Linked DNA regions of Homo sapiens. The protein of the gene in region 1 purifies or fractionates together with the protein of each later gene. This does not show direct contact. Each region holds a gene or a part of one and is shown in the gene's direction. Other genes may lie near its edges.

The links.
Region 2: the proteins of APBB2 (region 1) and APLP1 purify together in Homo sapiens (affinity purification with mass spectrometry; 4 studies listed by BioGRID and IntAct, with this or other methods). This does not show direct contact.
Region 3: the proteins of APBB2 (region 1) and ATP7A purify together in Homo sapiens (affinity purification with mass spectrometry; 4 studies listed by BioGRID and IntAct, with this or other methods). This does not show direct contact.
Region 4: the proteins of APBB2 (region 1) and TBC1D2B purify together in Homo sapiens (affinity purification with mass spectrometry; 4 studies listed by BioGRID and IntAct, with this or other methods). This does not show direct contact.

What each region holds. Positions count from the first base shown.
Region 1 is NC_000004.12:41,204,524-41,211,544, reverse strand, and holds part of APBB2 (amyloid beta precursor protein binding family B member 2), read left to right. Parts: intron 1-7,021. UniProt on the Homo sapiens protein: Plays a role in the maintenance of lens transparency, and may also play a role in muscle cell strength. Involved in hippocampal neurite branching and neuromuscular junction formation, as a result plays a role in spatial memory functioning.
Region 2 is NC_000019.10:35,863,930-35,871,576, forward strand, and holds the start of APLP1 (amyloid beta precursor like protein 1 isoform 1 precursor), read left to right. Parts: upstream 1-4,644; 5' UTR 4,645-4,707; coding exon 4,708-4,854; intron 4,855-5,162; exon of another isoform or gene 5,163-5,428; intron 5,429-5,737; coding exon 5,738-5,881; intron 5,882-6,966; coding exon 6,967-7,099; intron 7,100-7,307; coding exon 7,308-7,420; intron 7,421-7,647. Other genes in the region: KIRREL2 (kin of IRRE-like protein 2 isoform c precursor), read left to right, coding at 719-784, 2,228-2,563. UniProt on the Homo sapiens protein: May play a role in postsynaptic function. The C-terminal gamma-secretase processed fragment, ALID1, activates transcription activation through APBB1 (Fe65) binding. Couples to JIP signal transduction through C-terminal binding.
Region 3 is NC_000023.11:77,906,333-77,913,694, forward strand, and holds the start of ATP7A (copper-transporting ATPase 1), read left to right. Parts: upstream 1-4,360; 5' UTR 4,361-4,503; intron 4,504-7,362. UniProt on the Homo sapiens protein: ATP-driven copper (Cu(+)) ion pump that plays an important role in intracellular copper ion homeostasis.
Region 4 is NC_000015.10:78,074,693-78,082,336, reverse strand, and holds the start of TBC1D2B (TBC1 domain family member 2B), read left to right. Parts: upstream 1-4,625; 5' UTR 4,626-4,684; coding exon 4,685-5,044; intron 5,045-7,644. UniProt on the Homo sapiens protein: GTPase-activating protein that plays a role in the early steps of endocytosis.

The sequences.
Region 1 (7,021 bases):
CGCCACTGCACTCCAGCCTGGGCAAAAGGGTGAGACTCCGTCTCAAAATAAATACATAAATAAAATAAATAAATAAGTAAATAAATAACAAAACAAAACTGGACAATACCCTTGTGATATAACACCTTAAGTTTTCCGGGGGCGGGGGAGGGGAGCAGGTGGGACAGACTTTTAGGAAAATATTGTAATAAGTTATTACTGGTTATGGGGGGAATACTTATTTTCCTACATGGGGTTAGGAAACCAGCATTTGTTCAGTGCCTAGTATTATTATTATTATTATTATTTTTGAGACAGAGTTTCAGTCTGTCACCCAGGCTGGAGTGTAGTGGCGCGATCTTGGCTCACTGTAACCTCCACCTCCCAGGTTCAAGTAATTCTCCTGCCTCAGCCTCCTGAGTAGCTGGGATTCCAGGTGCCCGCCACCACGCCTGGCTAATTTTTGTAATTTTAGTAGAAATGGGGTTTCACCATGTTGGCCAGGCTGGTCTCCAAGTCCTGACCTCAGGAGGTCCACCAGTCTCGGTCTCCCAAAGTGCTGGGATTACAGGCGTGAGCCATCACGCCTGGTCTGTTCAGTGCTTTTTATGTGTCCTATTATCCTATTAAGGTTTTGTATATATCATCTTATGCTGTAAGCATCTATGCATAAATGTCAGCTGTCTAAGAAAACCCCTCTGAAAAGGTAGATGCTCGTGATTTCACAGCAATAGAGCTTTAAACTTTTATCTTATATGAAAATATCTTTAATTGATTCCATTATTATTCAGTAAGCATTCTCTTTTAAAGCATCTTTGATTTGTTATTTAGAATTAAATTTGATTGGAACTGCATATCTTCAGAATGATTTGAATGTTTTCAAGAAGGTTCTATCCAGATTTTAAAACTGTTTTGTGTTCATTTATTTTCAATAATGTTGCACTACCAACAAATGAAATTAGATGTCAGAAGATAAACCCAGATTAGCCATTTTGATTTTAATGTGTTATTAGTGCATATTCTGCATGCTGATATGTGTTGACGGCATTTCTCTCAGCCGAAATGGTTTGTCAGAGGCAGAGTAACAGACTCTCCATAATAAAGGGTCTGGGGGGATTTGGAGGAAAGACTACTAACCAGGGACCCCAAAGACTTGCCTTTGGGGCTGGCTTGTCCCTTACTTCAATTCACTGTGTTACCTGGAAAAAGTCAGTTATGTCTCTGGGCCTGTTTTCCCATCTGTAAAATGAGAGAGCTGCAGTCACCCTCTGGTTGTCTATCGGGTCCTTCTTGTCCCAGTCTAGAGATCTGTGATGCAGCCATTCGAGGAGAGAGGTCTTCGTTTAAGAGCAGGGGTCCCCAGCCCCCTGCTTCGGACCTGAACTGGTCAGTGGCCTATTAGGAACCGGGCCATAGAGCAGGAGGTGAGCGGCGGGCAAGTGACCTTTACCACCTGAGCTCCACCTCTGTCAGATCAGTGGTGGCATTTGATTCTCACAGGACTGTGAACCCTGTTGTGAACTGCACATGTGTGGGATCTTGGTTGTGCACTCCCTATGAGAATCTACTGCTTGTTGATCTGAGTTGGAACAGTTTCATCCCAATCCCCAACCCCATCCGTGGAAAAATTGTCTTCCATGAACGCTGTCTGGAGACCACTGGTTTAGAGCATTATTTGGAGGTGATTTTGTGTTTCCCTGTCTGGTTTGTCACTGCTTTGTCCAATGCCCTTCTTTTTTTGCCCAATTCCTACTTCCCTTATAGTTTTCATTTGTTATAAAATGGTTGTCATAAAATTAACTTTATGGCCCTGCCAGTCTAGTTAGCAGATAAGGTAATGATTAGATTTGGGTAAAGTGTATTCGACATTTGAAACTACTTCATAGCATTTTCTGCGGGGAGACTTTCTGCTCTTGAGCACACAGATAGTCTGAGAAAGAAACCTCTACCTAGGCTGCAGGGGAGGGGGTCCTGTGCTTTGCTTCCCAGGCCCACCCTTGTGAAATTTTGGCAAGCCTTTCCTGTGTCCCAGCCTTTGTCTCCTCGCCTCGATGAGAAATGCAGCCCTTGGTCTCTGGAATACGACTTTCACTCTCATTTGACGTTAGCCCTGTCACTGTGTTGGACAGATGCCTGTGATTGGCTGCTGCAGTAGCAGGAGTGGTGGCTGGTGAAATGTGTCTACTCAGTGTCATTAGCAGGATCATGAGCTTTTTTTTCTTTTTTCTTGGCAAGCTGCGATGGGGCAGAGAGCAAAGGAAACCAATCCCATTTGGTGTTTTTAGTGCATTTTGCTTTCAAGAGGCTCACAAAACTCAGCCTCATTAACCTTTAAGTGAGTCAGTGAGGAGTTGTTATCCCATTGAAATAATTTTTAATAAAGGGAGAGTGACTCTAGTTCCTCTAATAACCAGGCTCCAGGGTTCCTGGACCCCTGTTAGGAGTGGGTCATTAACTCCAGACATTAGATGAGAGCTGGGAGAGAGGAAGGGCATAGAGGGTGGAAGGTCAAGTCACACAACTGGGCAGGAAGTAAGAAGCTTGATCAGTTTAAAGGTATTAGAGCTCTTTGTGTGTAGAGTTACAGGAGATATTCCCTTTCTATATAATTTATTTCCATGGTGTTTGAATCTTATCTTGTTTTCTGTAATGGACGTATATTTATTTTATAATCAGAGAAAAATCCCAATATATAATTTATTGATATATAAAATGTACAGATTCACATGGACAAATACGAGAAGAGAACATGGAAAGAAATGAATGGTATAGAAAAGGATGGATTAAAGCTTTTCTTTGTTGTTGGTTAATGACTTGACAGTGGTTATAAACAAAGTTTACCAGTTCTACCCTCTCTTTTCCTCTTGTGGAAATCTTGCAAACTTTGTTTGCTAGGTAATAACTGAAGTTCCCGAAGTGTAACTCATTGGCAAGTATGCTTCAGGAATGCTTAGAGTGGGAGGAAGAGTGTCGTTTTTTTTAAGTTGATGAAAAAGAATGCAGAAACCGGGAGCAGTGGCTCATGCCTGTAATCCTAGCACTTTCGGAGGCCAAGGCAGGTGGCTCACTTGAGGTCGGGAGTTTGAGACCAGCCTGGCCAACATGGTGAAACCCCGTCTCTGCTAAAAATACAAAAATTAGCCGGGCATGGTGGCACACGCCTGTAATTTCAGCTACTCAGGAGGCTGAGGCAGGAGAATCGCTTGAACCCAGGAGGTGGAGGTTGCTGTGAGCTGAGACCGCGCCACTGCACTCCAGCCTGGGTGAAAGGGCGAGACTCTGTCTCAAAAAAAAGAATGCAGAATATTGGAATCGAGGTAGAAGGAAAAACGTGTGTTTAAGAGGGTGAGATAGATTGGAGAGACTTTGCGGAATTCCAGAGGGTAAAGGGAAATGCCATTGTTGAAGAAGGAAGGCCTGGCATTACTGGAGGTATGGGATGTGTCCCTGTCGTGTAAGTCAGAGCTCAGTTTCCACACAATATAAAAGTAAATGAGTATCTCCTATATGCAGAGCATAATGTTAGCCCCACAGGTCATTTATTGTTGGTTAGTGGTTTTCACTGTTCTTATCACAATGATGATAATGATGTAGTGAATATGTCATAATTGTTCAAATAAGAAGATATGTCCTTTTCTCTGATACTATGCCTTTCTCATTTTTGGGTAAGATTCTTTTATGATTTGATAGGAATATTTTTATCTAGCCGCTGAATGGTCCATGAAATTGGTAAGTCTGGGAATCTGGGCCTGAGATGCAGGGAGGCCTGCCCTTGGGATTGAGTTGAGTCATGGAGGCCAGGCCAACATGTGGAGTTTGTGGGTCAGCTGATGGGGCCCCTGGGCTTTCCAGGAATATAGAGTCACCCAAGGTCCTAGGAACTGTGAATGAGCTAATTTTGAAAGTGCCCTAGGAGCCAGTGACTATTTTTGAATTATAGCTTGAGAATGACAAGGAAAGCACCAAGATGAAAGATGAGGGTGTAAGGGAACAGAATGGGCAAGTGGTTGAAGTGTGAATTTCAGCAGGTGAACCTCAAGATGTATCTTGACATTTGATTCTTTGCATGCAGGCCTCTTTCTGGCAAAACAACACTCTTTAGCAATTCTTAGTTAGTGATTCTAGGAAATGGTGATGGGTGAAAGCCATAGAACCTAGAATTGTGTAATAGCCAGCTTGGCCCAGACCTCTGCAGTATCATTCCCTCCAGGGTGAGCCTTGAATTGCTGGAGGAAGCTTCAGAATGATTTGCTCATGGAATTGCTGTTATTCACCTTTAGTTTTGGTTGCTATTGTGGGGTGAAGAAGGAGTGTCAAAACAATAACAACAAATTATTTCCTTTTTTTTTTTTTTTTTTTTTTTTTTTGAGACGGAGTCTCACTTGGTCGCCCAGGCTGGAATGCAGTGGCTTAATCTCGGCTCACTGCAACCTCCACCTTCCAGGTTCAAGCAGTTTTCCTGCCTCAGCTACCCAAGTAGTTGGAACTACAGGTGCCCGCCACTGTATCCGGCTAATTTTTGTATTTTTAGTAGAGGCTGGGGTTTCACCACTTTGGCCAAGCAGGTCTCGAACTCCTGACCTCAAGTGATCTGCCCGCCTCAGCCTCTCAAAGTGCTGGGATTACAGGTATGGGTCCTCTCCCTGGCAGCATCCTGCTTGCTCTTTGGTGCTGGCTCTGTTCTTACCTTCTGATCTTCCTTCTGTTTCTCAGGTAGACTTCTGTCCTGGGCAAGAGTCGACCTGCCACATTGAGTATCACAATTTGCTAGGTGGTATTGTTTGTCAGTGGAAGTGAATAAATCAGAATTTCCTTAGCATGAGTTAGGTTTCTTGAGTTGTTTCATTCCTGGGGGAACTAATACCGTTAAAATTTCCTTGACATTTCAAGAAATGATCATATACCACATTGCAAATTTTGAACACAGCAGAGGCATGATTTGGGTGTAGAGACACCTTGGGAAGCATTGATTCAGACTCAGATTCTTCAGATTATCTGATCAGAACCTCTTGTCCTCTCCAAGAACCAAGGTCTGTGTATACCTTTTCCAGGACACTGGTGAAGAGAGACATTCATTTGGTGACATCCAGAAACCTCGGCTTCATTTGTTCCTTCCTTTGTTCAGCAAATGCTTATTGAGTACATAGTTTGTGCCTGGCACTGTGCTAAGTTCAGGAGGACAGAGAGGAATGTACCAGAACATTGGTTATAGGGTGCTGCAGTAGAGGCATGTGTGTGATGGGAGTGGAGGGGAAGGAAGGCTGTCCTAATCCTGCGAGAGTGGCAAGAGCTGTGGCTAGTGACTCCTCATGTAAAATTCCCACTACAGCAAACCCTTCAGCTGCTTCCTTTGTCATCTTTCCTTAACTCAATTTTATTCCTGCCTACCACCCAGGATTTGCTACTCCTTTTGTAAGGGAACTCGGGATTTGGCCTTTCAAATCTCTGTGGCAGTAGTTCTTAAGCAGGACAGTTTTGCTCACTGGGGAACATTTGGCAGTGACATTTTGGTCATGGTGACTGTGGAGGGATAACTACTGGCATCTAGTAGGAAGAGGCTAAGAATGCTACTAAATATCCTACAACATGTGCAAGGATAGCCCTAGAAGGAGGCAGCAGGGGTTTAGTGGTCAAGTCCCAGTGCTGCTCTGCAATTTAATAGCCATATGACAAAGGGCAACAGAATTGTACTTTGACAACAGAATTACACAGTGCTCAGTTTGCTCATCTGCAAATAGGAATACTAATTGTGCTTATATAATATGATTGTTGTGAAGATTTCATCAGTGAATGTATAAGGGCAGAGAACAATACTTGATGTGAGATAAGACCTTACTTAACGAGTATTTTTATTTTTAGTTTTAAACAAAAACTTTACCTTTTGACTCTAAAGAGCTTGAGTTTAGAGTATCCAGGGCAGTTGAGCTTGTAGCCCTACCTGTAAGTATGCTTTGGTGTAGGAAATGGCCATAGTTTTTGTGTTTTTCTAGTTCCTTTTTGTCCGTTGGCTTTATTTCCCATTGTCTCATCTCTTGAGATTTTTAATAGCTTTGCCTTTCATCCCTTTTTTCCCAGGGACCCAAATTTATGCCCTTAATGAGCTTTTCCCTAGAGGGCTGAGAATTATATTTATGATTTTCCTTAGCTCTGTCTATTTTGGGAATGGTGAGAAAATGGGAAGCGGGTCAGGGGAGATGTTGCATTACTTCCTGATTGCCATAGCTCCCTTCTCTGTAAAATCCCGTGAAGGATTGAGAGGCAGGTGGTAGTGCTTGCTTAGTAACTCTTCCCTTTACACCCACCAGCTCCACTCCCAAGTTGGGTGCCTACTACTTCCAAAATACCCCGTAATTGGGTCACAACATTATCTGCCTGCTTGGAATCATATTTAAAAATCAAAGCAAAGATGCAGACTATGTCAGCAGGATTTGAAATGTTTCCATCCTCTGCTTTGAGGCTTTGCAGAATTATTCTGAAAACAAAAGAAGGTAAACTTGTTATCCCAATGAGGTGGCAGTTTCTATGTGGCCTAGAATTATGCCTAATTTTTGCTTGTAAAAGGGCTCAAACCATGATCCTTTCTGACTTTCCACAGGGATGTGAGCTTTTGTGGACATCACTCAACAGATCAGATTTACTGTTGAATTTTCATAACATAATTGACTTGGAAAGCATTTCATTCAGTGTTTTGAATGGTGACTAGAGAGAAATTAAGAAGCTCAGTTGTTATATCTTTCGAATTCCTTTCCCATGACACAGTCATCTCTCCCCTGAATGAGAGCAGTGGCCTCCTGGCTTATCCAGCTCTGTTCACTCAGTTTGGCTTCCCAAGTGCTGGGCACTGTTCCAGATGCCACACGTGGACACTGACCAGGATGGCCACTGCCTCTACCTGCTCGGAGCTCTGGGTCTATAGAGAAAGGCTGACAGCTAAGGAATGAATGACGGTACTATGTGATACGTATTACTGGGAGAAATACTCAGTGCTTCCCAGACGAGCACTTATCCTGCTTGGGTGTGGGGAGTGTGTGGGGCAAAGCTT
Region 2 (7,647 bases), on another chromosome or scaffold:
TGTCCAGCTAATTTTTTTGTATTTTTAGTAGAGACGAGGTGTATACCGTGTTAGCCAGGATGGTCTGGATCTCCTGACCTCGTGATCCGCTCGTCTCGGCCTCCCAAAGTGCTGGGATTACAGGCGTGAGCCACCGCGCCCGGCCAAGGGCTCTAGTCTTAACAGTGACCCCACACCCAAATGTCACCCAAGTCCATGCCCCTGACCCAATTATTCCCTAGGCCCAGTATGTCCCCACAGCCCGTTTTTGTTGTTGTTGTTGTTGTTGTTGTTGTTTTTGAGATAGAGTCTTGCTCTGTCGTCCAAGCTGGAATGCAGTGGTGCAATCCAGACTCACTGCACCCTCCACCTCCCAGTTCAAGTGATTCTCGTTCCTTAGCCTCCTGAGTAGCTGAAATTACAGGTGCCTGCCACCATGCCTGCCTATTTTTTGCATTTTTAGTAGAGACAGAGTTTCGGCATGTTAGCCAGGCTGGTCTCAAACTTCTGGCCTCAAGTGATACTCCTGCTGCGGCCTCCCAAAGTGCTGGGATTACATGCATGAGCCACTGTGCTGGCTTCTTACAGCCCTTTTATTGTCCTGAGTGCAGTCCCCAGCTCTTGGGTGCTCTTACTCCCTCCTGCCTGGCCTCCACTGGCTGGCTGAAGGTCCTTGGGGTCTGGCATTGGGGCGGGGGGATCCTCTGACTATTCCCTCTCACTAAGTTCCCTACCCCAGGGCCCCATTGTGCACACTGACCACAGTGATCTGGTTCTGGAGGAGGAAGGGACTCTGGAGACCAAGGTGAGTGTTGAGAGGGGTGGGGCTCCCTTCACTGTTGGGAGAGGCGGGGCTCCCTTCATTGTGTTTCCGTCTCTCTCCCACGCCTGTCCCCTCCTTTTTCCTTCTGTTGTCCTCAGAGTTGGGACTCAGCTCCCCACCCCACTCCTCCTGCCCCCTGGGCCATCTCACTCAGCTCCCAGCCTCAGTTTGCCTGTCTGCAGACTCTTCCCACACATCTGTCCCAGCCCTAGCCTCCATCTGGAGCCCCAGACCAGGGCTCACCCTGCCTGTGCTCTCCTCATCACGGTCAAGCCCCCTTTCAGCCACCAGGTCCTACACTGGCCCCACATCTCCCCAGACTGGTTCTTCCTCTGGGGTCCTACCTCAGGACAGCCACATTGACTCCAGGCCATCCCCAGGCCAGAGCACTTCTCTCTCTCTCTCTCTCCTGCGTACCTAGCACATGCCATTCTCTCTCTTCTTTTTTTTTTTTTTTTTTTTGAGACGGAGTCTCATTCTGTTGCCCAGGCTGGAGTGCAGTGGTGCAATCTCAGCTCACTGCAACCTCTGCCTCCTGGGTTCAAGCCATTCTCCTGCCTCAGGCTCCCTAATAGCTGGCTAATTTTTCTTGTATTTTTAGTAGAGATGGAGTTTCACCATGTTGGCCAGGCTGATCTGGAACTCCTGACCTCAAGTGATCCGCTCGCCCCAGCCTCCCAAAGTGCTGGGATTACAGGCGTGAGCCACTGTGCCCAGCCGACATGCCATTCTCTTGGCCTGAAACACTCCTACCTTCCTTCCCATGTCTACCTAATTCCTTCCTTTAGTCCTCCAGTCTCAGCTCAGACATTTCTTGTTCTAGGAAGCCCATGCTTCCGTCATGACAGCTCGATCATTTTGCCTGTGTTCCACCCATCACAGCCATGACCACTCTGATCTGGGCTTCCTTATCCCACCCACTATGCTGAGGGCTCTACCATCACAGCCCCTGTCATTGCCTATGCCTTTCCCAGGCACAGCCCTGACCCCTCTGGGTACTGTCTCATGATCTGTCATTTTTCCTTTGGTGTGGGATTCTGTGAGGACAGGGTCCAGTTCTATCCTAGTGACATGCCTTGTAGCAGCAACACAGGGTGTGACACTGAATCAAAGCCTAGAGGCTGTTGGGCAGGTGAGTGTCTCTCTCCTGTTCCCTCTGCACCTTCCACACCGACACCCCTCAGCAGGCCTATATCCCTCCGTCTCTACCTTTCTCTGCCTATGTCCTATCCATTTGCCTCTTATCACTGTTCCTCTGTCTCACTTTCTCTCTCTCCCAGTCCATGTGTGTCTCTGTGTCTCTGCCCACTCCTGTCTCTTTTTGTCTCTCTCAAGGTCTGGTCTATTTCAGTGTGTCTCTCCATCAGTGACCCTCATCCCCCCTGCACGCTCACAGACTTTACTGAGTCCCATTTGTCCCCTCAGGACCCAACCAACGGTTACTACAAGGTCCGAGGAGTCAGTGTGAGCCTGAGCCTTGGCGAAGCCCCTGGAGGAGGTCTCTTCCTGCCACCACCCTCCCCCCTTGGGCCCCCAGGGACCCCTACCTTCTATGACTTCAACCCACACCTGGGCATGGTCCCCCCCTGCAGACTTTACAGAGCCAGGGCAGGCTATCTCACCACACCCCACCCTCGAGCTTTCACCAGCTACATCAAACCCACATCCTTTGGGCCCCCAGATCTGGCCCCCGGGACTCCCCCCTTCCCATATGCTGCCTTCCCCACACCTAGCCACCCGCGTCTCCAGACTCACGTGTGACATCTTTCCAATGGAAGAGTCCTGGGATCTCCAACTTGCCATAATGGATTGTTCTGATTTCTGAGGAGCCAGGACAAGTTGGCGACCTTACTCCTCCAAAACTGAACACAAGGGGAGGGAAAGATCATTACATTTGTCAGGAGCATTTGTATACAGTCAGCTCAGCCAAAGGAGATGCCCCAAGTGGGAGCAACATGGCCACCCAATATGCCCACCTATTCCCCGGTGTAAAAGAGATTCAAGATGGCAGGTAGGCCCTTTGAGGAGAGATGGGGACAGGGCAGTGGGTGTTGGGAGTTTGGGGCCGGGATGGAAGTTGTTTCTAGCCACTGAAAGAAGATATTTCAAGATGACCATCTGCATTGAGAGGAAAGGTAGCATAGGATAGATGAAGATGAAGAGCATACCAGGCCCCACCCTGGCTCTCCCTGAGGGGAACTTTGCTCGGCCAATGGAAATGCAGCCAAGATGGCCATATACTCCCTAGGAACCCAAGATGGCCACCATCTTGATTTTACTTTCCTTAAAGACTCAGAAAGACTTGGACCCAAGGAGTGGGGATACAGTGAGAATTACCACTGTTGGGGCAAAATATTGGGATAAAAATATTTATGTTTAATAATAAAAAAAAGTCAAAGAGGCAAGTGTGTCTTAGGGAGTCTACTGGCATTATCACTCTCCACCAAGGAAGGGGTCCCTTAGACCTGTCCCAAGGTCCCTCCTCTACCCTAGCCTATGAGGTGGCTGTAGGAGTAAAACTGTGAGCCACCTCTCAGCCTCTTGCTACCTGCAAAGCACTCTAGGCTCTTTTTTTTTTTTTCTTGAGACAAGATCTGGCTCTATGGCCCACATTGGAGTGCAGTGGCATGATCTCAGCCCACTGCTACCTCTGCATCCTGGGCTCAAGCCATCCTTCCACCTCAGCCTCCCAAGTAGCTGGGACTACAGGTGCATGCCACCACACCCAGCTAATTTTTGTATTTGTTTGTAGACAGGGTTTCACCATGTTGGCCAGGCTGGTCTCAAACTCCTGACCTCAAGTGATCCGCCCACCTAGGCCTCCCAATGTGCTGGGATTACAGGCATGAGCCACTGTGCCCAGCCATGGGCTCTTTTAATATACATCTTCACACACACACACACACACACACACACGCACACACACACATGAGTTGCAAACAGAAAAGACACACACATAGGCATGTATGCACAGACACACGCATAGATGTCCACACAGTTGCACACAAGTGACAGGGCTGCCCCAGGGGTCCTGGGGAAGACTGAATTCTAACTCTCATTAGAGGAGACAAACAAGTGAGCCCTGAAGTGGAGCAGGGAAGGGGAGACTATGGGTAGGAAAATGGCAATCCCCTGGTCCTTACAGCAAGCGTGGAGATCCAGACCCTAATCCTGAGGTGCTGCATCCACAGTGGGCATGGTGCTGGTGCCTGCTTGGATGATCCTTAAAGAAAGGTCCTGGGGGCTTTGGTTCATGGATCCTTGAGCTAGGAGTTAAAGGTCCAGGCCCCTGGGACCCTTGGGAAGCAGAGCAAGAAGAGTGAACTCCTGGGTCTGAAGGAGAATGGGCTGGGGGCTTGGTCTCTGGTCCTGAGAGAGAAGGTGCCCAGACTTCTGGATCTGAAAGAGGAAGGGACTAGGTCTCAACTGCTGCCTTCTTGACTGGGGACATTTTGGAGGCCTGTATTCCTGAGCCCTCAACAGAGGAATGTACTAGGGGATGGGGGTCTCTGATGCTTGCATCCTTGGAAAAGGACAAAACTGTGAGTGTCTGGGTCTAAAGAGGGTGAGAGTCCTGCGGGAGGACTCAAAATCCACAACGGGCGGAGCCCATAGCCGGACTCCTGGCTGGGCCCTTCATGGGGCGGGACGCCTGGAATCTCGAGGGGCGGGGGCCTGGCGCAGGCTCCCGCCCGGGGTTCCCGAGCTGCTCCACTCTGCGCGAAGCCGCCACGCTATTGTCCTGACCAGGAAGGCGGGGCCGGCGCGGGGCGGGGCTGGCGGCGCCGGCGCAGCCCGGGGGCGGCGGGAGGAGGAGGTGGCGGCGGTGGCGCTGGGAGCTCCTGTCACCGCTGGGGCCGGGCCGGGCGGGAGTGCAGGGGACGTGAGGGCGCAAGGGCCGGGACATGGGGCCCGCCAGCCCCGCTGCTCGCGGTCTAAGTCGCCGCCCGGGCCAGCCGCCGCTGCCGCTGCTGCTGCCACTATTGCTGCTGCTTCTGCGCGCGCAGCCCGCCATCGGGAGCCTGGCCGGTGGGAGCCCCGGCGCGGCCGAGGTGAGGCCGGGCCGGGTCCTGGGGGATGGGGGAAGGGGCGGGACCGGGTCTCTGGACGCCGGCGCGGACATGTCCAGGGCAGAAAGCGCGGTCTTTCCAGCCAGGTGGTCAGCCCCCAGGCGCCCCCAATCACATTTATGAACCCAGGGTTCCAGGCCCCAGCTCCCCCATCATGCGACGTCCCAGCCCCCTCCCATCTCGAGCATAGGAACTGGTCTATTCAGAGCCCCTGGTCCCAGAAGTCCAGCCCCCTCTCCAGACCCAGGTGACTCGGCCCCAACCCCCTCCCGCCTGGACATAGGACCCACCAAGCAGCGAGGCATTTAGATCCAATAATCCAGACCCCTTGTATTCTCTGGACCCATATGGAGGCCCTTGCAGCCTCCCAGGACCCAGGAGTCCAGTCCTTCAGTCACCACCCACCCCAACCAGATGTAGCTCTCCAGTCCTCAAGGACCTGGTGTCCAGGACTGTAGGCCCCTGAAGCCAGGCCTTGTCAGCTTTGCATCCTGCAACGGGAGCCTGAGCAAGGGATGGAGGGAGGAGGGGCCAGAACTCCTGGGTTCTGGCCTCCTCCTCCGCGATTCAGGTTTAACCCCTTCGGGCTCCAGAGCGGCTGCGCTGGGGTGGGGGCGGAGTCTGTCTCCGCGGCAACAAGGCAGAAAGAATCCCGGGGGACCCAGGTCGCCATAGCAACGGGAGCGCTGGGGCGCCCCCGCCCTACGGGAGCTGTTTCCCAGGGAACGGTGCCTCCATGGAGGCGGTGTGCGGTGCTTGGGGGAGGGGGCTGGTGCTGGGGGTCTCGGTCCTAGGGAGCAAAGAACCAGGGGACCCTCATGCCAACGCCCCCCGAGCCCTCACTGTCCTTTCCACTTCCATCCAGGCCCCGGGGTCGGCCCAGGTGGCTGGACTATGCGGGCGCCTAACCCTTCACCGGGACCTGCGCACCGGCCGCTGGGAACCAGACCCACAGCGCTCTCGACGCTGTCTCCGGGACCCGCAGCGCGTGCTGGAGTACTGCAGACAGGTGGGCGGGGCCGAACGGGAGAGGCGGGGCCGCCCATAGAAAGCTAGACTTGAAAAAGGCGTGGTCCAGGGTGCTGCGCGATCTAAGGCGTGGAGGCTGGGGGGCGTGGCCAATAAAGAGGCGCAACTATGCTAGGGGCAGGGGACCTGTTTTGAGATACTAAGTCAGGAAAAGGGGAGAGCCGCGAGATAGCCAGAGAGGAAGTGGAATTTAGGAATCTGGTGGTCTTTGTAAAGAGTAGAGGTGTAGGGGGGAGTGGCGAAAGGATAGGCGGGGCTAAGACAGAAAGAGACCTTAAGGACCAGCAAGATGGGGAAAGGGGTGGAGCCCAATGAGAGCGCGGAGAGCTGGGGGGGCGTGGCCATGAAAAGACAAATTTATAACGGGAAGGGAGAGTTTTGGAGAGGCGGAATAGAGGAAAAGGCGGGGCCTAAAGGAGGGTGAGACCTTTGGGGAGACGAATCTGACTGCGGGGAGGGGTGACCAGAGAGGTGGGCTTAGAGGGACCTTCAGAAAGAAACAGCACAGGAAAAGAGATAGGGCTTAAAGATGACGGGACTTTTAAGGGAAAACTGCTAGTGGGCGTGGCCAATGAGCACAAGGAGCTTGGATATCTAAGGCTGGTGCTAGGGAGAAGCAGGGCCTAGGGAAGCGATGTCCTCATGAATACTAGAGCCTTGAAAACGGACCTGGCCGGGCGCGGTGGCTCACGCCTGTAATCGCAGCACTTGGGGAGGCCGAGGCAGGCGGATCACCTGAGGTCAGAAGTTCGAGACCAGCCTGGCCAACACGGCGAAACTCCGTCTCTACTAAAAATACAAAAATTAGCCTGGCATGGTGGTGCGTGCCTGTAATCCCAGCTACTCAGGAGGCTGAGACAGGAGAATCGCTTGAACCTGGGAGGAGGAGGTTGCAGTGAGCCGAGATTGTACCATTCCACTCCAGCCTGGGCGACAAGAGCAAATCTCCGTCTCAAAGAAAGAAAGAAAGAGGGAGAAAGAAAGAGAAAAGGGACCTGACTACTGGAGAGGGGTGGCTGGCAGGGGCGGGGCAGTGGGCTGATTGCCCCCATCTGATCCCCCCAGATGTACCCGGAGCTGCAGATTGCACGTGTGGAGCAGGCTACGCAGGCCATCCCCATGGAGCGCTGGTGCGGGGGTTCCCGGAGCGGCAGCTGCGCCCACCCCCACCACCAGGTTGTGCCCTTCCGCTGCCTGCGTGAGTCCCAGGCGGGGAGAGGGGAACTGAGGTGGGAGTTTCTGAGGGGCAAGGTTCTGAGCCCCTCTCTCAGGCCTACATTAAGGGGCTGGGTGCTTGTGTCCTAAGTGGGGCAGAGAAGCCTCTGAGGATAAAATATCTGGATTCTGAGGAGGGTGGGGTTGGTGGCTATAGGAGGATCTCACCCTGGTGTCCCGTGCTTCCCCAGCTGGTGAATTTGTGAGTGAGGCCCTGCTGGTGCCTGAAGGCTGCCGGTTCTTGCACCAGGAGCGCATGGACCAATGTGAGAGTTCAACCCGGAGGCATCAGGAGGCACAGGAGGTCAGGACGTTGGCCCACCCGTCCCCAGCCCCCACAACCCAGGAACTGGGACCTCTAACACCCTCCGCCACCAGAACCGAGGAGTCTGGGCCACCAGCATCCTCTTCGCACTTGGGATCTAAGAATTTCATCCCCCAACCCCTTCCTCTAGAAGCAGGAATCCAGGCTCCCAGCCTCATCAACCCCCAACCCTGGCAGCCCAGTTCCCCATCTACCCCCTCCCATCC
Region 3 (7,362 bases), on another chromosome or scaffold:
AGGGCGGAGTGGTCCTATAAAACAAACTCGTAGCCTGTCTGAAGACTAGCTACTAGCTCCTTGGCTGTTTTGGCATATTCATCTTGATTATAGCTCTTGGTCTTTCATCATATTAGGGATGTTTATGATGTTATTAAAGAAAATCTTGTCAAATGCAGTCTGTTCCTAGTTATCTACTATCAGTCACCTGTTGTATAATTATAACAATGTTTGGATTTGTGGATTATTATTTTAGTATATAACATTGGATTTTATGTATGTTACCTGAAGAAGAGCAATATCTGTACCACATATTTCTTTGTTTTTCTTTTTTGAGATGAAGTCTCACTCTGTTGCCCAGGCTGGAGTGCAGTGGTGTGATCTTGACACACTGCAACCTTTGCCTCCCGGATTCAAGTGATTCTCCTGTCTCAGCCTCCCTAGTAACTGGAATTACAGGCGCCTGCCACCATGCCTGGCTAATTTTTGTATTTTTAGTAGAGATGGGGTTTCACCATGTTGGCCAACCTGGTCTTGAACTCCTGACCTCAGGCGATCCACCCACCTCAGCCTCCCAAAGTGCTAGGCTTACAGGCATGAGACACCGCGCCCGGCTTATATATCATTACTTTCTTGGCTGAGAGCTGTAGTCTGTGGTAGTTGTTTTGTTTTGTTTTTTGTTTTTTTTTTGTAGTTTTCTTGATCGTGATCAATTAAGCAGAAAGTAGAATTTCAGTCAGGTAACCTGTCTATATTAGCTAAATTATCTTTTGCTTATTACATAGAGTGCTAGAAGTATGCTGTCATGGCATATGTCCTAGTTTCTCATCAAATGGACCAAAGTCAGTGATTTTATTTGAAGAGGAAAAATTGAACGTCATTGTAAATTAAGTTGCAAGTTTAGTAACCATATTGTACCACTGTTTGATAAATTTGAACGCTTTATGGTATTTCATATTTAGAATGTTCAAAATAGTACTGAAGTATTCAAATACATACAACCCTGAGCGATATTGAAGTAAAATAAACATGTATTTAAGGAAGTGTCAACCTTCAATTATATACCTTTTTGTCACTGAATTAACACTTATTTCTCACGACGTGGAAGCAGTTTCAGTATGGTTTGTACTAAGCTAAGTGATAGTTGTCATCTGTATGACAATTTAGAATGTTTTCTGTGTCCATTTGTGATCAAAATTATATGTTGCTTTGTGTGATAAAACCTGGTGGTGGTAGTAACTTTGAACACACTTTTTGAACTTAATTTTGTAGTTAATCTTATCCTGATGAGTAATTCTAAAACTTATGACCACTACTAGAAATGAAGCAGTTTTTTGTGTGTGTGTGCCATCACAGTATATACTGACCTTGGAGCTTTCCTAGTGCTCTCAGAGCCATGAAAATATCCTTTCACACAAATTTTCTCAACTTACCCGTAACATCGCTTTGAGTTTCAGTCATACCTAGAGTTGGAAAGTCGTCAAATTAGTCCTCTGTCCTCAAGTATCTGTAAGTCTGAAGAATTTAGGTAAGTTACTTACCTTAAAATCATTGCCAATCCTTTAAACTCTATTTGGATGGCTGTGAAATATTTTAACATTAGGGTTAATGTCATAAATCCCATTCTTTTTTTTTTTTTGAGACCGAGTTTTGCTCTGTCATCCAGGCTGGAGTTCAGTGGTGTGATTTTGGCTCACTGCAACCTCCGCCTCCTGGGTTCAAGGGATTCTGCCTCGGCCTCCCAAGTAGCTGGAATTACAGGCGCCCACCATCACACCTGGTTAATTTTTATATTTTTAGTAGAGACAGGGTTTTGTCATGTTGGCCAGGCTGGTCTCGAACTCCTGACCTCAGGCGATCCACCTGCCTCGGCCTCCCAAAGTGCTGGGATTACAGTCGTGAGCCACGGTGCCCAACCTCATAAATCTCATTCTTAATTTCACTCTAGGACAGAATTATTGTAGCACCTGTGTTCTGTTATTTTAGATTCATTTTAACTTACCTAGACACGGGTACTGTGGTAGTTGTAGAGGTACAGATGTTGAGTTCCCATCCTCCTGGCTTAATGTCACTGGGGTTATTAATACACTTCATAAGCATTTTAGGGACACCTGCTGTCTGCTCAACCCCCAGCAAACCTGATTATTTCTTGAAGACATTCCCTTCTATGCTTGTGCATTGGTAAGGAGGATTAGGGATGATGCATTTAAAGACAAGAGTTTTAGGCTGGGCCTGGTGGCTCATATCTGTAATCCCAGCACTTTGGGCAGCTGAGGTGGGAGGATCATTTGAGGCCAAGAGTTCGAGACCAGCCTGGGCAACAAAGGGAGACTCCCATCTCCACACACAAAAAAATAAAAACTAGCCAGGTGTGGTGGTGTGTGCCCATAGTTCCAACTACTTGGGAGGCTGAGGTGCAAGGATCGCTTTAGCCCCGGAGTTTAAGGTTACAAGGACCTATGATCACACTTCTGCACTCCAGCCTGGGTGACAGCAAGACTCTCAAAACCAAACAACAACAAAATATATATATAGCTCTCTAGGTTTTTATGTTAAATATTAGAGTGCCTAAGAATGTACATGGTTGGCAGAGGATCTTGCAGCTCATAGTGATAAACTTTAGTATTTACATAAAAATACTAGATAGCTAGTAGATTCAATGTTCTGCTTCTGAAAAAGATATATTTTTGGTTTTGCCTTTTAGTGAATTTCTTTTGGATGCTTAACACAATGTTAATATAGTTACAAACCAACTTGCTAATATTTGGAAACCCACTTAAAAGCTATCTTCATTTCATATGATGTGATTTTTAAGATTTTAAATTTGGGGCTGAGTTTGTATCTTAATAATTAAGGCTGCACACATTGACAACTACAAAATAATGCCTGGGAAGATGAGTCCTGAGGCTAATTTTATATTTATGTGGATGAGTGTGGAGGGGGATAATAATTCTGAAATACTTAATCACAGACCTAAAATGTAGATCTATGGGTAATTTTAAATGTTGCCTGTCAAGGCTTAATAGGGACTTGACAACAGCTAGGATGGAAATTATTTCAACACTTAAATATGCTTACTTTGTGCCGGACGCTGTTCTAAGTCTTTTACAAATATTTACTTGATATTTGTATTTTGTGTACTATTTTGATTTCTGCAACATTATTAGGCTTCATACTCTTCTGTGGGAACTGGGTTCAAATGGTTCCAGATGAAAATACAAATAGTCCTGTGATTAGTTTTGTTCTACATCTTATGACAGATACTTCATGAAAGGAAATATGAAAAGGCCACATCTTGCTTTGAAATAAGTGAGATGGAGCCTCTCCCTCTTTTTACTGTTAATGTTCATAGTTTTAAAAATCCTAGAATTTTGCTGCTTTTCAAAATGTTAAGTTGGAAAGCAAGAATAAAATGACCCTTTTTTCAAATGTTTTCTGTACCATTTATTGCATTGTTTACATTTTATGCATCTCATTTCTAAATGAACTCATGGTAACAGAGACTGTAACACTTTTGCATCACCGGAATCTTCTAGGTGTGTAAAATGATGGACGAGTGAATGAATAAATGGGGGAGTGGTTCAGAGCTTGGAATGGCGCTATGAAGGTGGTGAAGTGACGTCCCTACCCCCTCAACACACATATAAAAATTATGAATTTATAAACATTTTCCTCTTGATGTAATTTTTCAATGGAGGGAAGAGGATAAATTCATAGTTCTGGCACTTACATCTGGAATTAGGCTACACAGTCTACGGGAAGCAAGTTAACACAGTCTAACAGATGCACGTGAATTTCATGCTGGGCGAAGATGAACTATGTGGAAGATGACTTATAAGGAGCTTTTATGTTACATCTTGGCAGTTAACACAGTCTAACTGATGCACGTGAATTTCATGCTGGGCGAAGATGAACTATGTGGAAGATGACTTATAAGGAGCTTTTATGTTACATCTTGGCAGTTAACACAGTCTAACAGATGCACGTGAATTTCATGCTAGGCAAAGATGAACTATGTGGAAGATGACTTATAAGGATCTTTTATGTTACATCTTGGCCTGAGGTTAGGAAACTAAAGATGACAAAGGCACTGTTTTAGTATGGGTTTTCTGGTTTCGCTTTTGTCGTGGGGGCGGGGTGGGATAGTGGACTCGTACCCTAACAAAGACCCACTCGAGGCTGCGTGTCGGCCCGGGGGCAGCAGGGGGCAGGAGAAGCTGGCTCTAGACCACGCGTTCCTTTTCACGTGACCAGTCGCTCTCTTTCCCGTGGCGGCCCTGCTTCCGGCAGGGGCATCACCCGGAAGTGGGGGTAGTCGAGGGAGGGAGGGGTAAAGGCGGCTGGCCGCCGCGGCGGGGGGTGGGAAAAGAGAAGCAGAGGGAGGAGTTGTTGCTGCCGCCGCCGCAGCCGCAGCTACTGTGACTTCTCCGATTGTGTGAGCTTTGTTGGAGCCTGCGTACGTGGATTTATCGCTGCCACGGTCTGCGTAGCTCCAGAGGTTTAACCATAGGATAGAGAAACCAGGTAAGTCCTACATTGGCTTCCCGTCGTCCTTTCTCCTGGAGGGGGTCTTCTGTGCTGTCAGTTTGTACTACGAGTGTGGTGAGAAGGTCATGTTAGTCTGGGGCAGTCTCGAAAGTTTCACTTATTCACAATTCAGGTATTAACTACATTTATGTTTTACCTCCCCTAACAGGGGATAGAGGAGGGGAAATTAAATCCTGACCTGTGTCACTTTCTTGTACCCTCTTGGAGAGAATGTCCTGATCATCCATGGCCTACGTTACCCAATTAATTGAGGGTACAAGAAAGTTTGTGTTTGGCATTGAAAGTCACATGGACTGGGGTCTTTGCTTAGTGACACCTCTTTATACTTTGGAAGCTAAGGTTACTAAAATGACCATAATTGATGAAATAATAATTGAAAAATAGATATTTGGCTTCTTGTCTTGCTCTGGGAGCGTAAGGTAAACTGAGAGAACTCTTGTTTCCACTTAGTTTTGTTCATTGTGCCCCCTTTCCAGTAAAGTTACTGTCCATTGTCCGACCCTGTGGCATCTTATCTTTGACACTTTTCTTCGTTGTAGACGTTGAGATTATCTTAAGCACAAACACTTATCGTTTCACAATTCAGCGTTTGTCCAGGATCTGATCTTTATTTTAATCACAGACTCTTTATCTACAATAGTATGGCTTTGTATTGAGAATATGTGCAGAACATTGAATTAGATGATACTGAGGTTATTAATTTTTTTTTTTTTTTGCCGGGTGCGGGGGGGTGGTGGGGAGGGGGTGATGCACAAGAAATAAGACAGAGTTCCTGGCCTCAAAAGAGTTTACTTACAGTAGGCTGGGCGCAGTGTCTGACACACCTGTAATACCAACACTTTGGGAGGCCGAGGAGGGTGGATCACCTGAGGTCAGGAGATCGAGACCAGCCTGGCCATCATGGCGAAACCCTGTCTTTACTAAAAATACAAAAATTAGCTGGGCGTGGTGGCGGGCGCCTGTAATCCCAGCTAGTCGGGAGACTGAGGCAAGAGGATCGCTTGAACCTGGGAGGCGGATGTTGCAGTGAGCCGAGATCGTGCCACTGCACTCCAGCCTGGGCTACAAGAGCGAAACTGTCTCCAAAAAAGAAGAAAGAAAAATAAACAGTTTACATACAATTGAGTCCGAATTGAGTCAGTTGAATTCAGCTATGAAGACAACGGTTTCTAGCAGCCCCACTGACTGAATTACTAGGTTGCTTATCACATCCTTTTCAATGGTTATTTTTGAACTGGCATTTTATTATATTTAACATTTTCTGGTGTCTAAGGTCATGACATGAGAGAGTTTTTTTTGTACTTGAGGATCTCAATGTAGTAGGAAAGAAAGATACACGATTACCTAAACATTTAAAAAATCTCACTAACGTTATATATTAGAAACAGGAGGTGTTATGAGAGTGCAGGGAAGGGAGCATGTGAACTGGGCTTTGAAAAATAGATAGGATTTAGCTTTGCAGGAATGGAGGAAGAGGAAGACATCTATCTGGACTGATAGATAGAAGAAATAATGTGAGCAAAGCCATGGGGGTCTGGAAAGTTGCCCGACATCCAGTAACACACTGTAAGTCAATATTCCTATTTCTAACAGCCACATCTTCCAAGATGTCACTGATTAAAATTAGAAAAAATATAGAATACAAAACTAGTCAGCTCACAAACATATCCAACTGCCCTCCAGCCAATAAGAAAGCTTATATAGAGAAAAAAATACATGGAAATGACAAAAGCAATGTTAATGTATGAGGCTTAATTCTGATGTAAACTCAAATCTAAAAGAGAAAAAATGTAAAACTCGCTATACTTTAATTCTGATTGAGTGTTGTGCCTTAAATATAATTTGGAATCATTTTTAAAATTGTTGGGAATGAATAACATTTTCTGAAGTGAGCAACTGTTCCAGGTTTTCCCCAAGGAATCTCTGCTTTTCCTTTTTTCCTCTAAATTGATTTCTCTCTATTGATCTTCTTAACTTGATAGGAACTATTCTATTCCGATCACAGCCTTAGAAAGATCTTGATGCCTGCCCTCAAGATAAGGTTAAACACTAATCCCTCCAAAGGATAGGTTAACATCTCTGTTCTCTAAAGCAGAAGGTTGATTTTCTTTGAAAAATGCTTGCAGAAGCAGTAAAATTTGCTTACAAAACAAGAGAGAGAGAGAAAAGAGTGCAAAAATAACCCCAGCTAACACACCACAACCTTCACTTCTGTGAGGGCGCTAAAGGAAATACATTTTAAAAAAATAAATTCCTTGTTATAACTCCTTTTATCTATATATTTAAAAGCTCTTGGCAAACTTTATTAATCAAGACTTTGGACATCCTGATGAGTGAAAATAATCTTCATTTGCCAGTTGGGAAAGTAAATTGCAAGGAGAGATTTTTGTCTGAACTCATAGAAGCACTAGCATAGATGAGAATAGTATTTGGGAGTTTTGTCTCAAAATTCCTTCTATTCATCTTTGTTAAAGGGCAGTTCAGGTTTTAGCGTTTTGTTTTTAGACAACGATATTTCTTAGGATATAGCTCAACATGGGGCCGGGGCAAGGGGGAGGCTGGGGGACAGATGAGTGATAGGCAATGGTTAGGCAGAGTATTTTAGTTCACTCTACCATCCCAGCAATCATGTTTTTCCCTCTTAAATCTCAGTCTTCAGGTTGATTTAATGTGATATTACTTGCTTACTTAACTTGCTGAGATAGTTTGGCAGGAAAAATATCAAAATTCCTTTAGAATGTGTTTCATTAAAGTAAAAGGGTCCTGTGTTTCTGATTTTATAAAATGTTCTTACTTTTTCCAGCACTGTTTGCAAATTGAAGTGATTTCCTAATC
Region 4 (7,644 bases), on another chromosome or scaffold:
CATCACTGTTTAATCTAAGAGACCTCAGGAACTGCAGATGTCAACAAACCATTTACGAAGGGTTTCAGGGAATTAGGAGCCACCAGAGACAGCCCCAACATTTCCATGTAGGAGGCCCTTGGGAAGAACTGAAGCTATATCTATTTACATAAACTATAAACATTGTCCAGACTGAAGATGGAGGTACTAAGAGAGATGAGATAAAGCCCCATTGCCTAGTTCTCCTCAGCTCATGGCCCTAGGAATGAGGGGAGAAGGGTTTGTTCACGAAATAAAAAGCATTTCAGCAGGGTCTTGAGAGAGTCAGTGGGGAAGAGGGGCCTGGGGGAGGTCTAGAGAGTCAAGAGGGTTTTAGGGTTGATTCTGGAGGCTCTAGGGATCCTTGGAAGGCTTGGGCCACTTCCTAAGCCTGGTCGGGTAGACAGAGACTCAGGGCCCTCCAGGGGACCCTCCTGAGACATTGCTGTTGGCTTTGAGGCCTCCATACTTTACCACTCTCACTGGGGACTCAGGCCTGTGTCTGTGCAGCCTCCTCAGAGGGCCATATTCTGGACCCGGCCAGACCGAGGCAGGGGCCAGGCCAGTTTATCCCCTAATATACTAAAAAGCTCAGTGCCTGGGCCTGCCTGCTTGAGAGGCCTGTGAAATGTTTGTGGCCTAAGAAAAATGTATTGGCTCTAAAACCCAAGAAAAACAGCAAAATTAGAATTAATGAACATCTAATTAAATGTCTACAAATGTAACATGTCACCTTTATAGTCATCATAAAAATGTCATAACAGAGCTGGGCACCTTGGCTCATGCCTTAATCCCAGCACTCTGGGAGGCCAAGGTGGGAGGATCACTTGAGACCAGGAGTTTGAGACCAGCCTGGGCAACATAGCAGAGACCTATCTCTACAAAAAATACAAAAATTAGCTGAGCGTGGTGCTGCGCACACCTGTGGTTCCAGCTACTCAGGAGGCTGAGGTGGGAGGATTGCCTGAGCCCAGGAGGGGGAGGTTGCAGTGAGTTGAGGTAGCGTCACCGCACTCCAGCCTGGGTGACACAATGAGACCCATCTCCAAAAAAAAAAAAAAAAAAAAGGTCATTACATTTGAGAACAATTTCTAGGTTAGGTTTCTCTCACTTGGCCAAAATTCCCACACAGACACGATGATTGCCAAGAAATCAGCCAATTAAAAATGAAAATGAAAACTCATAATTAGATAATATCAAGAGCACAATTATGGATATTCCTGAAAACATTTTCATAGCAAAAATTATGTATATGTTTACTACGGGATGTAGAGCATTTTAATATGTTTGATATGATGTCAGGTGTGGCCTCCAGAAGGAAGAGGGCAGTGGCTTACAAGCATTTTATTTATTTTTATTATTATTATTATTTTGAGACAGAGCCTTGCTCTGTTACCCAGGCTGGAGTGCAGTGGCACGATCTTGGTTCACTGCAACCTCCTCCTCCCAGACTCAAGCGATTCTCCTGCCTCGGCCTCCTGAGTAGCTGGGATTACAGGCACGTGCCACCGTGCCTGGCTCATTTTTGTATTTTTAGTAGAGATTGGTTTTCACCATGTTGCCCAGGCAGGTCTCAAACTCCTGACCTTGTGATCTGCCCTCCTTGGCCTCCCAAAGTGCTGGGATTACAGGCGTGAGCCACCACACTCAGCCCTGCAAGCATTTTAAAATGGCCCCAGCTCATCTGTGCTGGGTGACCAGGGAAGGATTGGAGGCTCAGGTGTAGGGGAGTCAGGCTGAAGTCCAGCTTGCCCACTGAGGGGCACAGACAGCAGGTACGGTTCTGCATGCCAGGCCCTGGCGGATACAGCAGTGAACAAACCAATCATTCTCCTACCCTCGTGGAGATTATATTCTAGTAAGGCAGGGAGGTGACACACAAGAAAGCAGATAAAAGTAATGTGTGCTATGTTGTATAAATGCCGTGATGACATGTAGATGATTACCGCTTAAAACAGCACCCCTGTCCCGTCCCATCTGCCTAGCCCTGGCCAGCCAGCCCAGACTCTTAGTCCAGGAGGGGGGCTCGTGGCTTGTGCCTGTGAAGGATGCCTTCCTCGGGCCTAGCAGACATCGGCCCCCGTGAGACACCTCATGGGGCTTGGTCCTGTCCACTGGGACCACAGGTCATGGCCACCCCCACTTCCTTATAACTTACTGATAGATCTAGGAGAGATGGGCTACACCCTCCCCTGTCCTGTTGCCTCCCTGTACCATGGCAATACAGACCGGGTTCTCCCAGCTCTTCCCTTTCCCACAGTATTTCAAGGTCAGACCTCACCCTGACTGCCTACCCCACAAGCCAATTAGTCACAGCCCCTTTTACATACATGGTGAGGCCCAAATTGAACTTGGGACCCCTTGCTCCCGAGAGCAGCCCACTCCACTCCCGCAGCACCGCAGTGTCTGGCCTCCCTTGTCTGGGCCCGGTCTGACTGTTGGATTCCCCCTCTCCGAATCTGCTGACTGATGAGGAAGACATCGGTGTTAACTGCAAGATGATAATAATAACAGCTGATATGTGCTGAGTGCTTACTATGTGTGAGGCACCGTGCTAAGCACTTTCATATGCATTTCTCACGTAACCCTTTCAATAACAACAGCACGAGATAGCTACTTGTATTTATCAACCCTGTTTTATAAATGAAGAGACTGAGGCCCAGAGAGGTTAAATCACTTGCCCAAGGTCATGCCTCTGGTAAGTGGCAGAGCTAGGAGACACATCTGGTCAGTGTGAAGTCAGAGCCCAGTCCTTAACACTGTGCTGATTGTGCTCAAAGACAGGTGGAGAGGTCAGCCACACCTCTGATGGGCCCCAGGAAAGGAATGCTTGCGTGGTGCCACTTTAGGGCCTGCAGAGAGTCGGCAGGCTGGGTGAGGACCCAGAACCTGCCCTTCCTACCTGGGTGGCTCCAAACAGGCAGTCTAATTTGTGTCCCTGTCCAGCTCAGAAAGGTCAGTTTTCCACCTGGGTCTTTCAGTGTGTCTGTATAAAACATGCAAATCTATGAGGGTGAGATATTTGGTTTGGGCTTTCACAAATGTAGCTATGTAGCTATACACTTCCTTTTTCCTTTGAATAAAGTGAGCTCTTGTACTCACTATTCCCTCTCCCTGGAATGCTTCACCCACATTTCTGGTTGCCCCTGTCCCTCCCATCATCTGGGTTTGTGCTCCATGTCACAGGATCAGACCAGCCTCCTTGCCTGTCCTGGGGCAGCAGCCTGCTATCTGCCCCCCATCACTTCATCCTCTCACTTTGCTTTTTACTTATTTTTTATTCTTGTGGGAACATAGTAGGTGTATATATTTATGGGTTACATGAGATATTTTAATACAGGCATGCAATGCATAATAATCAAATCAGGGTAAGTAAGGTATCCATCACCTCAAGCATTTATCCTTTGTGTTACAAACAATCCTATTATACTTTTTTTTTTCTTTTTAGACAGAGTTTTGCTCTTGTTGCCCAGGCTGGAGTGCAATGGCGCAACCTCGGCTCACTGCAACCTCCACCTCCGGGGTTCAAGAGATTCTCTTGCTTCAGCCTCCCGAGTAGCTGGGATTACAGGCATGCACCACCACGCCCAGCTAATTTTGTATTTTTAGTAGAGACAGGGTTTCTTCATGTTGGTCAGGCTGGTCTCGAACTCCCGACCTCAGGTGATCCACCCACCTCGGCCTCCCAAACTGCTGGGATTACAGGCGTGAACCACCGCGTCTGTATTATACTCTTTTGGTTATTTTTAAACGTACAATTATATTATTTTTGACTGTAGTCACCCTGTTGTGCTAGCAAATACTTGGTCTTATTCATTCTTTCTCTTTGCTTTATTACAAAGCAATAGATTTGCCTTCTCAGGTTGTGAGTGTTCAAATAAGTTAGTCTATAAAGCACTGATAAATACTAGGTGCTATTTTAAGCGGTAATCATTTACATGTCATCACGGCATTTATACAACATAGCACACATTACTTTTATCTGCTTTCTTGTGTGTCACCTCCCTGCCTTACTAGAATATAACCTCCACGAGGGCAGGAGAATGATTGGTTTGTTCACTGCTGTATCCGCCAGGGCCTGGCATACAGAACCGTACCCGGCATTCAGAAGGCGCTCAATAAATATATGTTGAATTCAATAAATGAACTGAGGTCTGGAGAGGCAGGAAACGCTTTGGCTTTCATGAATTCTGCAAATATTTACTGAGCACCCACTCAGCACCAGGCAATAGGCTGTCTCATTTTTACAATATTAGCTTGAGACTCTGGCAGGAGGGAGATTTAAATATCAAGTTTTTAGAATAAGATACACAGTGTGAAATGCAGTTTTAAGCGGACACTCCGCTGGGTTTTGAGAGATGCACACTCCCATGTACCTACACTGCCATAAAGAAATAGACCATTGCTTCATCCGGCAGGGCGAGGACTTGGAGCCCAGGTGGCACGAAGGCAACTGACCCGCGGGGTGCTGGTCGCAGGACCCTGCCTCCGGGGGCTGAGGGGGCAACGGCCGGCGGGCGGGCGGGGGCGAGACTACAAGTCCCAGGGTGCTTTGCGCGCCCGCGGGCCGTGCGGAGCGAAGGGGCGGTGCGGAGGGGGTAGGGGGCGCAGCGGCCGCGGCGCGGAGGCGCAGGGCGCGGGCGCCTACGGTTGGCGCGCGGTAGCGATGCCGGGGGCCGGAGCCCGGGCGGAGGAGGGCGGCGGCGGCGGCGAGGGCGCGGCGCAGGGGGCGGCCGCGGAGCCCGGGGCGGGTCCGGCGCGGGAGCCAGCGCGGCTGTGTGGCTATCTGCAGAAGCTGTCGGGCAAGGGCCCCCTGCGTGGCTACCGCAGCCGCTGGTTCGTGTTCGACGCGCGCCGCTGCTACCTTTACTATTTCAAGAGTCCGCAGGACGCGCTGCCCCTCGGCCACTTGGACATCGCGGACGCCTGCTTCAGCTACCAGGGCCCCGACGAGGCGGCGGAGCCGGGCACGGAGCCGCCCGCGCACTTCCAGGTGCACAGCGCGGGAGCCGTCACGGTGCTCAAGGTGGGACCGCTCGCCCCAAAGCCGCCCGCGCGCTTCCGCCGGCGTCCCCTGCCTCCGCCACTGGCTTGCGCCATCCACCCTCCTTCCTCCAAGGCCTCCTCGCCCCTGCCCACGTCGGCCTGCCTTTCCCTGCTTCTCCACATCCCGCCCTCGTTCCTATCTCCTCCCCACTATCTGGGCTTAGGCCAGTCTCGCTGGGGCTACCAAGCCCCGTCTCCTTTCTCAGACACCTTGACCCATTATCTCCCTCTGCGCCTAACCTCGGGCCAGTCTCTGGTGTCTCCCGACCCCCACCATCCCGTGGATGTCCTGTGCAGCCTTCCCAGGCATCCGTGAGCGTAGGCTTCTACCCCTGGGGCCTCCTTTAGAACTTTGCCTATGGCCTTGGTACCTCAGTGAACCGCTCTGGGCTGCAGCGGCCTCCTCTGTAAAATGGGATAACAGTAGTATCTACCTCATGGGGTGTTGGGATTAAATGAATTATACTTTAAACTGCTCAGTAAATGTCAGTGCTTTTATTTATTTGTTTATTTATTCTTTTTGAGACAGGATCTTGTTCTGTTGTCCAGGCTGGAGTGCAGGGGTGCGATCTCGGCTCACTGCAGCCTCCATGCCTGGGCTCAAGAGATCCTCCCACCTCAGCCTCCCAAGTAGCTGGGACCACAGGTGCGGGCCACCACGCCTGGCTAATTAAATTTTTTTTTTTTTTTAAAGAAACGGGGGTCTCACTATGTTGCCCAGGCTAGTCTCGAACTCCTGGGCCGAAACCATCCTCCCCATCCAGCTTCCCAAAGTGCTGGGATGCCAGGCGTGAGCCAGAGTGCATTTAGCACTGTAGACAGAAAGAGTCAGATGGCAGGGCCCTTAGAGACAGTCCACTACATTTTCCTCCAGAGTGGACGGGGATGCTCCAGCTAAGGTCACACAGCCAGTAGGTGGCAGATCCTGTGTTCTTCCTCCTTGCTTTGTCCAGGATGGGTGGGAGGGGGTCTTTTCAGCCAGTTATGCCTTGCTCCTTTGAGGCTCCCTTAATCCTCCAGTGGACAGACAAAATGAGAGATACAGTGTAGAAGCAGGAGAGTAGAGTCAGGAGTCCTGGTGCTGAAAGGCCTCCCCTGTCCTTGGGAGTTCTGGGGGACTAGACTGTCACCTCCTAGGGGCCCACCTGCTTTGAGCATCTGGAGGGATCTGGGCCCAGGCCTGGAGCTGGGTATCCTTTTTCCAGGCTTTGCTCCCTGCCTGGTTTCTGTGAGTCTCCACCCTCACTCTCACTCCTCTTCCGTATTCCAGGTTGGGCTTTCTCCAGAGCAACAGGGTTGGGCTGGGATGTATGAAAGTGCTCTCAAAGCTGGCCACACGGAGAGCAGACTAGGCAAACTCCTGGCCTTGTGAGCTGAGGACTGTTCCTCAGACCCCCAGAGCTGCTAACAGCTGGAGCTGCTCCCTGGAGATGTTCTTAGAGCTTTGCTGACTCAGCTTTTGCCAGTTCAAGCAGGATCTGATTCCCATGTTCTCTTGGGCTCCCCTGTCCTGTCTGTAAGTGGGTGCAGACAGCCTGTTTCCCCAAAGAAAACCAACTCGGGTTGCAGTCCTACACAGGCTTACTTAGAGAGTGCCTGTATAAACTTGGTAATGACCCTAGTGGGAGACCTTTGCCAAAGGCAGAGGCTCTTCCTCAGTGTACATACGGGCTGTCCCTGTGTCGGACGAATTTCCTGTGGGATGTTTGTTAAAGAAAATAGAGCATCGTGTTTCACATTTTTCCCAGATGACTGTAGAACTCTATCAGTTTTTTTCATTAAAATAATCTGAATCTCCTGTAATCCCAGCACTTTGGGAGGCCGAGACGGGTGGATCACGAGGTCAGGAGCTCGAGACCATCCTGGCTAACACGGTGACACCCCATGTCTATTAAATATACAAAAAATTAGCCAGGCATGGTGGCGGGTGCCTGTAGTCCCAGTTATTCGGGAGGCTGAGGCAGGAGAATGGCGTGAACCCGGGAGGAAGAGCTTGCAGTGAGCAGAGATCGCGCCACTGCACTCAGCCTGGGTGACAGAGTGAGACTCCATCTCAAAAAAAATTAAAAAAAAAATAATAAATAAGAATCTACATAAGCAGGGTTACAAGGCGCATTGTCAGAAGTGTGGCTTTAAACTTCGATGGACTTGAACTTGAAGCAGGAGTCTGCTGCTCACACATATTGGACAAATTACACCAGTTCCCTGCTCCAGTTTCCTCTTTGGTCTAGTGGGAATCATACCTTCCTCATTAGGTGGCTGTGAGGATTCTGGAGAATGTTATGGAAAATGGCTGGCGCATTTTCCATAGTGGTATGGAAAATAGTAGGCACTACATGGCATATGAAACATCAAGCAGTGTCTTTGGCCAAATATGTAGTGTATTCATATAGTGGAATATTATGCAGTAGTAAACAAAGGTACTAGAGCTATAGGTGTCAACGTGGATTACTCTCACAAACAATAAAATTGAACAAGAAGTAAGTTACACACTGATTGTGTTCAGAATGATACCACTTATAGAAAGGTTAGGAAGATCATGTGAAACAGTACTACAGATCATAAGGATGTATGCTCTTT